2 separate regions of the Homo sapiens genome follow, and region 1 is linked to region 2. Evidence: fine-mapped expression QTL. A gene starts in region 2. The other region holds a variant in brackets. All regions are shown on one strand. Distances are from middle to middle.

What was found.
Region 1: its variant is fine-mapped to the expression of LYST in unexposed skin (GTEx, PIP 0.96).

What each region holds. Positions count from the first base shown.
Region 1 is chr1:235,930,182-235,935,558 of GRCh38, forward strand. The region is part of intron 2 of LINC02768 (long intergenic non-protein coding RNA 2768); the gene reads right to left. All of the region lies in intron 2 of LOC105373215 (a long non-coding RNA gene), which reads left to right. Among named protein-coding and RNA genes, the nearest start is that of LINC02768, 40 kb to the right of the region's middle. The variant T/C (reference allele first, on the strand shown) is at 2,292.
Region 2 is chr1:235,864,375-235,869,751 of GRCh38, forward strand. It overlaps LYST (lysosomal trafficking regulator), which reads right to left and starts at 2,532. Exons shown (of 53, transcript NM_000081.4): 1 at 2,469-2,532. RefSeq lists enhancers at 1,590-1,639, 2,010-2,109 and silencers at 2,230-2,649, 2,700-2,999.

The DNA.
Region 1 (5,377 bases), 66 kb after region 2:
ATGGGATTTCACCATGTTGGCCAGGATGGTCTCGATCTCTTGACCTCGTGATCCGCCTGCCTTGGCCTCCCAAAGAGCTGGGATTACAGGCGTGAGCCACTATGCCCCACCAGCTTGCATTTTTTTTTTCTGAGTGATTACCATAGTCCCTGGCATTATTCTGTGAGCTTTACATAAATGGAGTCATTTAATCCTCGCAACGATTCTACAGAGGTCATCAGGGCGACATGGGCTACGTAATTTGCCCAAGGTTGCTAAAAAAAGAACACACACACACACACACACACACACACACACACACACACATATATATAGTTGTTGTTGTTTTTTTTTGTTTTTGTTTTTTGTGGGGGGTGTAAACCAATTTCCTTCAAGGCCTGCTATCTGTCATGTGATGTTATACCAGAGTCAGGTTGGAATTTGGTATCTTATTGTTACAAAGAGTCTGTTTTATCAGTCTTAAGAGCGTTAATGGCATGTTAATGCTGGTCAGCTGTGCCTAAACTCCAAAGGGAGGAGGGTAAATGGGGCACGTCCAACCCTCCCTTCCCACATGGCCTGAGCTAGTTTTTCAGGTTTGCTTGGATCCCCTTGACCAAGAGGACAGTCCGTTCAGTCATTTGTTGGGGCGGGTGGGGAGGTGTTTGGATTTTTTTTTTTTTTAGTTTATAAGAGGAATAGTCACTCGGTTACTATTTTTTGCACGACAACGACTAAAAAGACAAACTTCCTCTGATAAATGCGGTTTATCAAGAGAGAGAAATAAACACACACAGAGAATGAACTTCTTTGGCTCCAAACTGGATAAAACATTGGGAGGAATTTTTAAGATTAATATTCTGTGTGTAAATACATGTTCATAATAATGTTTGATTCAGGTGGCAAACACAAGTGCTCATTCTAAAGAAAGGCGTCAACGTCAAACTCAGTTTGAAAAGTTTGCCAGGGACGCAAGACTCAGCACCTCGGGCTCATGCAACTTGTATCTGCCTAAAATGAATTGCAGCTTGTCAGGAGCTACTTGGAAGAACAAAATGATCTAGAAGACCAGATGCGAAAGAGAGCAGAAGAAATCACTCTTGTTTTGTTAAGCTTCAGGGAGTTTGACTTAGCGGGTGAAGAAAGACTGAACCCCAGGTGGCAAGAGAGAGATGGGTCCCTTCGCTCTTCTCCCTGGACAACTGAACTTTCTCACACTCTCTCTAACTCCCACCTGCAGCCTGCAGTGGAGACTAGAGATGCCCCAACGACCTTGCTTTGAAGACTGAGATGAAGAATGAATCGTTAGAGGCACTTTGCAGGTGTGTGAGTGCTACACCGATGCGAACAGGGACACAGTACTAAGCTGGCAAAACGTGTGTGTAAATAGCATCTGGGAGGAAACTGCAGTTTACAATCCTAAAGGGAAGGAAAAAAAAGAAAGAGATCAGAAGCCAATAAGGGGCTGGTGCAGTGGCTCATGCCTGTAATCCCAGCATTTGGTGGATCACCTGAGATTAGGAGTTCCAGACCAGCCTGGCCAACATGGTGAAACCTTGTCTCTACTAAAAATACAAAAATTAGCCGGGCGTGGTGGTGGGTGCCTGTAGTCCCAGCTACTCAGGAGGCAGAGGCAGGAGAATGGCGTGAACCCGGGAGGTGGAGGTTGCAGTGAGCTGAGATCGCACCACTGCACTCCAGCCTGGGCAGCAGAGTGAGACTCTTGTCTAAAACACACACACACACACACACACACATACACACACACAAAACAAGAAACCAATAAGGTGGCATTTAAGAGTGCTTAAGATCTGGTGTTCATTTTAGCTGGCTGCATTGCAAAAAGATGTGAAAGCTTTTATTTTATTTTATGAATACTTATTGAACAGCTACTCTGGGCAGGCCCTACTACCAGTTTCTGGGAGAACAAGATGAATTAGGCATGGTCCCTAATTGCAAGGGGTTCACAATTTAGCATCCTATGCAGATCTCCGTGGGGACAGCCCCAGGGGTTACCCTTGTTTGCTTGTGCTTTTGAGGTAGGCATTCAAGTGTAGACACTTGCAGCTGTGCGCCCTGCTCTTCCTGGGGGCCCGTCCTTCCCTCATTCCCCACCACACCGCAGGTGGGGCAGTTTTGGCTGCTCTGCAATCTCAACCGCAAAGAGTTGCTCCACCCTTTGTCCCGGCAAAACTCTGAATTGTCCTGTAATTATTGCCACACTGCAATCCGGTGCCATCTGATAAGTACAGGTTTCAAAACTGTGCTCACAATTCCTGCCAAAGCCATCCTGCCAACATCAGGCACAGACA[T/C]TGGCAAACCTACTCGGCCTGGGCTGAGTTGAGCTAAAGGTGCCATGAAAATCTGGAGATGGAAACTCAGCAACCACCTAGAATAAGATCACCTGCAACACACACATGTACACACAATCACACACACACGAGTGAGCACACACCCTTTCTCCCTGGGGTTTTGACTCCGTTCCTTATGTGATTCTATGTCAAATGTGTAGAAAAAAGAAGCTGTCCTGAGCACAGCACATTGAAAAATAAACGCCAGCATTTCAATAGCTTTGCAGAGAAGAGATCCACAGAATAGCGTTGGGTTTCCTCTTGTTCTTGCATGGAAACATGATCAGGTGAGGTTTGTACTAGAGCATTCTGTAACCCCTGATCCTGGGGGCTGATCAGGAAGAGTCAGGTGTGGTGTGTTTAAAAAGTGAAAGCCGGCCAGGTGCGGTGGCTCATGCCTGTAATCCCAGCACTTTGGGAGGCCAAGGCGGGCGGCTCACTTGAGGTCAGGAGTTCGAGACCAGCCTGGTCAACATGGTGAAACCCCATCTCTACTAAAAATTCAAAAATTAGCCAGTGTGATGGTGGGGGCCTGTAATACCAGCTACTTGGGGAGCTGAGGGAGGAGAATCGCTTGAACTTGGGAGACGGAGTTTGCAGTGAGGTGAGATCGCACCACTGCATTCCAGCCTGGGTGACAGAGCCAGACTCCATCTCGAAAAAAGAAAAAAAAAAAAAGTGAAAGCCACAGGTATCCTTTGGCAGAGGTTGCCAGTAGCCTGCCTGTAGTTTGCTTAGGCATGTTCTGAACATGCAGAATGATGTGCTGGGACTAAGTTGAGTTTGGCAGTCATTTCAGGAAAGCAAAAAAGAGAAGAATGTTAATAACTAAGAATTTCCAAGAATGGGCTCTAGTTCCAGCCTTGCAATGGAGGCTTTACATGCGCTGGCCCACAGAATCCTTACAACCACTCTGCGAAGGGCTTACTGTTATGATATTATTAGTCGCATTTCACAGATGGGGAAACAGCTTCAGAGAATAAAGCAACTTGCCCAAAGGTCACATATACAGTAGATAATGGAGCTGAACTGGGAACCAGAGCTGTGTGATCCAGTGAAGGTGGCCACAGGCTGGTAGAGGCTGCCTCACGCCTGCCCACTGCCTCTTGCCACCATGCTTGCCCCTGCTGCCCCCTGGCAGTGGCAGATTTGCAGGCTGTGCTGCCCTGAGACAGCCTCATGGGGCAGAGGGAGAAGCTTGGAGGCTCACTGGCAGACCTAGTCCCAAATGCAGGGAGGAAGGAAAAGTAGATTCATTTCCTCATTCTTGGCAGCAAAATCTCCTTCCTTCCCCATTGTTTCTTGGATCTTTCTTTTTACTTTCACTTAAATAATCCTACACTTCAATTCCTGGCCCCCTATCATCCATGCAGACAAAGCTCCTCTTTTGTTTTATTCATTATTTTTTCCCCGTTCCCCTTTCGAACTTCCATTCTCACTTCCGTTAGGTTTACATGCTAACTTGTTGATATACATGTCCTTAGACATGTGTTTACCTGAACTATGTATAGCAGCATTTTGCATACGTGTTTTTAAGTTTCATAAGTAATATGATGCCATTAATTTTATTCTATGCCCTTCTTTCAATTGACTATGTATTTTTTTTGCCTTTGCCAAAATAAGACTTTATTTTGAAAGTCATTTGAAGGACACTGAGAAAGACAGGAGACCTTAGATTCAATGGATGTAGATTCCAACTTTGGATTCTTGCCTGCCTCACTAATGGTCTCTGTTAGGCTGGAAAGGTGCTTTCTTTGGTCATTCCAATTTTTAGCTTGCTGGAGAAAACATCTTTTCCCAGAAGCCATCTTCTTCTTTTGTGTGTGTGTGTGTGTGTGTGTGTGTGTGTGTGTGTGTGTGTGTGTGTGGAGTAGAGCTTTATTTTCAGGAAACAGTATGTTAGTTGGAAATGGGTATATATATATATATATATATTTTTTTTTTTTAAATCAAGGTAGTTCTAATACATTCAACAGAGTGGGGTGGCTCAGCCAGAGGTGGCGTGAAAAGGTTCTCTATTATTTGCTTAATATCCTGCTACAACCAGAAATCCCCACCCAGGAATATAGTTCTGTACAAAGTTGTTCTGTCTTTGCATCATAAATGCTAATCAATGGTCAATTGACTATATTTTTAAAGTCTATTCATATACTGTTTGTAAATCTAGTTTATGACTTTTTTTTTTTTTTTTTTTGAGACAGGGTCTCACTCTGTCACCCAGGCTGGAGTGCAGTGGTGCCACCATGGCTCACTGCAGCCTAGACTTCCTGGGCTCAACAACCCTCCCTCATTAGCCTCCACCAAGTAGCTGGGACTGCAGGTGTGCACCACCATGCCCAGCTAGTTTTTTTATTTTTTGTAAAGATGGAGTCTCGATATGTTGCCCAGGGCTGGTCTCAAATTCCTGGCCTCAAGTAGTCCTCCCCTTCAGCCTCCCAAACTGCTGGGATTCCAGGCATGAGCCACCGAACCCAGCCTAGTTTATTACGTCTGACTGTGCAAAGTATTCCCTGCCTGCTTGTCTTCCTATACCCCTTCACTTACTGCTCCCTGATGGGTGTCTGTGTGTGTGTGTGGGGGGGGTGTGGGGATGATATTTGTTCATTGTCTGTTAGTACTCACTAAAATATATGTTCTATGTGAACAAGGAGTTTGTTTAATTCACTGAGATCACCACAGCTCTTAGAGTAGGAGCAGTACCAGCCCATGATAGGTTCTTGGTCAATATAGAATAAGTGCCTGAGTATCTGTCCACCACATTCTACGTTATCGCTTTCTCTAACAGGGTGGTCTTTTACCGCCTGCTACATAGACACCATATGGAGGAGGGTGGCGGGCTTGCGAGGTATATGCATATTTAATTCTCTTTTCTCCCTCCCTCCTCCACACCATTTCAGGGTTTTGTTTTGTTTTTTTTCAGTCTGAATTGCCCTTAGGCAGATAGAATATTTATGTCCTTTGAGGCCCGACCCTTGTGAACTATAAACAAAATCCTTGTCCAAAAAACTTTTGCTGAAGCACTTACCCTGAAAAGATATGCAGACCTT
Region 2 (5,377 bases):
CCTAATCTCAGTAAACAAGTACCCCATCTTTCTACTTGTTCGGAACTAAATTTTGGTGTCTTTTACATCTCTACCCTCAATTTATCCTGAAATCAATGACCTCTCACCACCTCCACCAATTCCACTCTGGTCCAAGCTACATTATCTCTGGCCTGGATTAGGGCAACAGTTCCGGATTGGTATCCCAGCTTCTGCTCCTGCTCAACCCTTCCCCTACAACAAAGTCTATTCTCCATCCAGCGCCCAGAATGATCATTTTTAAAAGGCAAGCCTGGGGCCGAGCGCAGTGGCTCACGCCTACAATCGCAGAATGTTGACACGCCAAGGTGGATGGATCGCTTGAGCCCAGGAGTTTGAGACCAGCCTGGGCAACAATGGCGAAACCCCATCTTTACAAAAAATTAGCCAAGCATGGTGGGTGATGTGTGCCTGAAGTCCCAATTACTTCAGAGGCTGAGGTGAGAGGATCACCTGAGCCTGGGAAGTCGAGGCTGCAGTAGGTTGTGATCATGCCACTGCACTCCAGCCTGGGAGACAAAGTGAGATCCTGACTCAAAACTAAAAATAAAAGGTAAGGTTCTTTACTCAAAGAGTGGACTCCCCTTTCCACTGAGAGTAGAAACTCAAGTCCTTAAAAGGGCCTACAAGGCCTTATACAGTCTAATCTCCCACCACACTCACCTCTTTGACTTTATTTCTACTCCTCTTTGCTTTTTCCACCACAGCCAAATCAGCCTCTCTGCTGTCCTCAAACAAGCCCAGCACACAGGGCTTCTGCAAGCCCTTCTGCCTTCCTCTCTGCTAGCACATCCTTCCCTCAGAGAGGTACATGGATTACCCCTCACTTACTTCTGGTCTTGGCTCAAATGATATCTTTTCTAGGAAGCTTTCCCTGGCTGCCTCTAGTTAAAATTGCAAACCTCTCCCGGTTCCCTGCCCTCCCTCTTCCCTGCCCTCCCTCTTCCGTGCTTTTTCTCTGTAGTACTTAACACCATCTGACACAGCACATATTTTATTTGTTTATTATCTGAGGTCCCCACTAGAATATAAGCTCCATGAAGGAGCAGATATTTATGTTTTCTTAGAAAAGTATCTGACACGCAGTAGGTGCTCAATAAATATTTACTAAATACATATATATAATTATATAGTTTGTGAAGTATTTTTATGCAAATTACAGCAATTCATTTTTCCTTATGCCCTCTCTTCTTCAAATTCTCCAATCTTTGTAGTAACAATATGGATGACAGCAAAGAGCTATCAGAAAAAGAGTTGTTGGCCACTTAACAAAGCTCTTTAAAACAGATACCCCATATTAATCAACTACATCTATAAATTGAAAGCTTAAAGTCAACATCTTTATTAGCATAGATGAATCTAGGCGTGGAATTTTAAAATAATAGCGCAGAAGAGCCAAGAATCATCAGGAAGAAAAGTCTAATTCAGTTTGTCCTATCAATCTGTTAAACAAACAATAGGAAAATGCAACCTGCATTTGATCTTCAAGGAAACACTGGCCCAAATTCAACACGAACGCATTCAACACAAGATTCGACTCCCTTAAAATTTTCTATCTGCTTAAAACAAACCCCATTAACTATCAAGTGCCGTCGCTGGGTGTGTATGGTCTGCCGAGCGGATCGGGGATGTTTTGCTATGTTTTGTTTAACCAGATAAGAATTAGCGTTAAGGAAACGTTTCTTAAAGCCTCTGTATCCCCTGGACCATTAAACAACCCCTTCGTTGGGCTTTACACTGTGGTACCGGGGTCTTCTCGGGTAATTTCCCAGCTTATTTAACTCATCAGAAGCGAAGGGGCATCTCAGTCAGGCTCCAGTGATACCGGAGACAGACGGCAGATGTCTCAGGGGATCCCCTGGAAAGAGAGGCTCTCGCCCAGTCAAAGGGTGTCACGGACAGGAGGAAAGAGCGGACCGAGGCGCACGGTGTAGGTGACAGGTGGGCGAGCGCCGCAGGGCAACAGCGCGGGGAGTGACCGGCTGGGTGGTGGCGCGGAAACCGTCAACTCCCATCGTCAACCTGACAGCTTGGGCCCAGCTGGGCTGAGTAGTGCAGCGGCACAGGATCAAAAAATAAAATAAAGGTAGCAACACACCGCCGTCAGCCTGCTCGACCTCGCCCCCCGCGCGCTGCGAAATAAAGTTAGTGCCCAGTGGCCGCTGCAATGGCCCAGAGGGGCCCAGCCGAGCTCCCGCCCGCGGCCCGGCGGCTGTCAAAGGCGGCCCGGCGCCGCGAGAAGTCCCAGAGCCCAGAAGCCAGAGAGGACGCCCCGAGCTGGCGCGTCAGGCCGAGTGCCCTCGCGCCCTCGCGCCCTCAGCCCGGCGGTCCCGGCCCTCAACCCAGGCTGACAGCCACCAGCCCCAAACCGCCTCCCCTCCAGGCCACGCAGAGGGGCCGGGACCCGGAACCTTCTGCCGGCAGCGTCGGCGCCCGGCGGCCGCCTTTACCTGGTTTGTGGCAGCTGCGGCCGCCGCGCACTCCCCCTCTCCCGGAGAACCCCGAGCCGACGCCGCTGCCGCCGCCGCCGCGCACTCCCCACCCCCGCCCGCCCAGGTAACCCAGGAAACCGAGAACACCACCCCCTCCCTCCCCTCGTCCGGACCCAGACCCGCTCGTCTGCGCGTGCGCCCTTGGCTCCGCCTCGCGCGTGTAAGCCCCGCCTCCTCTGGGAGGGCAGCGCCGGCGTCGCAGGCGTGACGCGTGGAACTGCCGAGCCAATAGGGAAGGCAGGGGGGCGGGCCGACCCGCGGGGCTGCAGCCGGGGCCCGGTCTGGGTTTCTCAGCGGTCGGGGGTCGTACCCTGGGTCCGCACCTCCTCCCAGGGCTCTGCGTAGTGGGCTGCGTCAGACCCTGGGGAGTGCGAGCACCGTTTGAGAAGCACCAAACACAAGCGCATCGTCCGCCTCTTCCATTCAACACAGACTGTCAACCTGTCCCATTGTGTAGGTCTAGAGGATGAAGATAGAAGAAATAACGGGAAGGAGTCAGGAGAGGGAGAAAGGGTTACCCACAAGGCACCCCTAGCCTTCCTCTGGGACCTGGAAAAAGCCATATTGTAATGGTTACCGTCGGCTTCTTTCAAGAAACAAAAAGAGCTTTGCAAAGCCACTGCAGAAGTAATTCAGTGCAGTGGTGTATTTTCCAACCGACTCCTGTTCAAACACGGTTTGTATACAGTGCGCACTGTCAGTGTCATATGCCCTAATAGACCAGTCCCTCCAGAGGGTGGGAGCTGTAGGTAAAATCCAGGATGTTTTGGCTGCATCCCCGGCTCTGGGCCCAGCACGCTGCTGGCAGACTGCTGCGGTAGGCAGTTTGGCATTTCAAGGGCCACCCTCCTCACCTCCTAGTCACTGAGACAGCAACGCCAGAGGTACTGGGAAAAAGCCTGAACTGTAATCGTTCGGTAGTTTTCAAGTTCTGCCAAACAATACAAACTATTAATAAGCAGATAATCTACAAATTGACAGGAATTGCTGTAGAATCAACAACTCCCATAATTTTTTGCACAGGAATTATGAAATAGAAATAATTCAGGATATTATGTCCCAAGCCTATATACCAAATGTTACTCCCAATTCCTCAAACTCCCATCTAACCCAATGACAAGCAAAGTGCGTTAAGTTGCCCACTGATGTGGTTTAGAGGGTGCTCTTGGGGAAAATTCCCCACTTTAAAATATGTCTTCTCTGACGTCTGATGTTTAACCATTAGCAGTTCATATCTTTAGGCGAAGATTGCCCACTTCCTCTGGCAGGTAGTCTTTTATTTTTATTTTTTATCTTTTTTTTTTTGAGACAGATTCTCGCTCTGTCGCCCAGGCTGGAGGGCAGTGGCCGGATATCGGCTCACTGAACCCTAACAAGTGCAGGAAATAAATGTCTCAGGGAACTTATCACTCATTTAAGCAGTATATAATGAGCACCTACAATGCGCTAAGTATTGTGCTAGGTGCATGGGCCTGAACTGAAACAAAAAGAGGAAGCCAAACTTAACCTGTTTCGTCATTTTACCTAAAGCTGTGTCTACTCTTATTTATACATCAACTTTCACCCACTAATCTTAAAAACACCCCCCTTTTTTAATGGACAAAAGAAGTCAAAGAAATATTAAGTAACAAGCCAGTTTCTGTTAACCTTGAGTAGAAAATAATAGATTATCATGATTTCATTAAAGCAAAGAAAATGAGACAGACTTTAGATGATAATGGTATACAATTGGCCCTCAAAGTATTATTTGTTTGTAAAAGGCACAAAGTAATGCCATTTGTGACTATTATTTTTTTCGGTACCAGTGTTTTTTATTTTATTTTATTTTCAAGATGCAGCTTCACTCTTTTTCCCTGACTGGAGTGCAGTGGCACAGTCTCGGCTCACTGCAACCTCCGCCTCCCGGGTTCAAGTGATTCTCCTGCCTCAGCCTCCCAAGTAGCTGGGATTACAGGAATGTGCTACCATGCCCGGCTAATTTTGTATTTTTAGTAGAGACAGAGTTTCATCATGTTGGTCAGGCTGGTCTCGAACTCCTGACCTCAGGTGATCCACCCACCTCTACCTCCCAAAGTGCTGGGATTACAGGCATGAGACACCGCTCCTGGCCTCGGTTCCAGTATTTTAACTAAGCTACTGCAGTATGTATTTTATTCAATAGTATCTTAGAACATCGATACTAAATATACATATCAAATAAAACTTAGTTTAAAAGATTTCCTAGGAACACACACAAAATGTGTAGTGAAGAACATGAAAAAGAAGAAAAAAGTAAAGTAATAGGTATATAGAAGAAAGCTCTACTTGGCCGGGCGCAGTGGCTCACGCCTGTAATCCCAGCACTTTGGGAGGCCGAGGCGGGCAGATCACGAGGTCAGGAGATGGAGACCATCCTGGCTAACACGGTGAAACCCCGTCTCTACTAAAAATACAAAAAATTAGCCGGGCGCGGTGGCGGACGCCTGTAGTCTCAGCTAATCGAGAGGCTGAGGCAGGAGAATAGCGTGAACCCGGGAGGCGGAGCTTGCAGTGAGCTGAGATAGCGCCACTACAGTCTGGCCCGGGTGAAAGAGCGAGACTCCGTCTCAAAAAAAAAAATAATAATTAAAAAAGCTCTACTTACGCATGTATCACATGCTGGAAAACTTTTTAAGCAGGAAAGTCTTCAGCTAATTTGACTCCAGAATTATAATCTTCAATGAGATTGTAACATCCCAGCTTAAAACAACACAGTCAACGTAAATGTGCATAATTTCACATTTAATTATTCTCCAAAACACCTTTAAAAATTATTTGTGACTAAATGGATATATAAATCAAATCATGTCACATCTCTGCTCAAAAATCTGCATTGGCTCTCCGCTTCT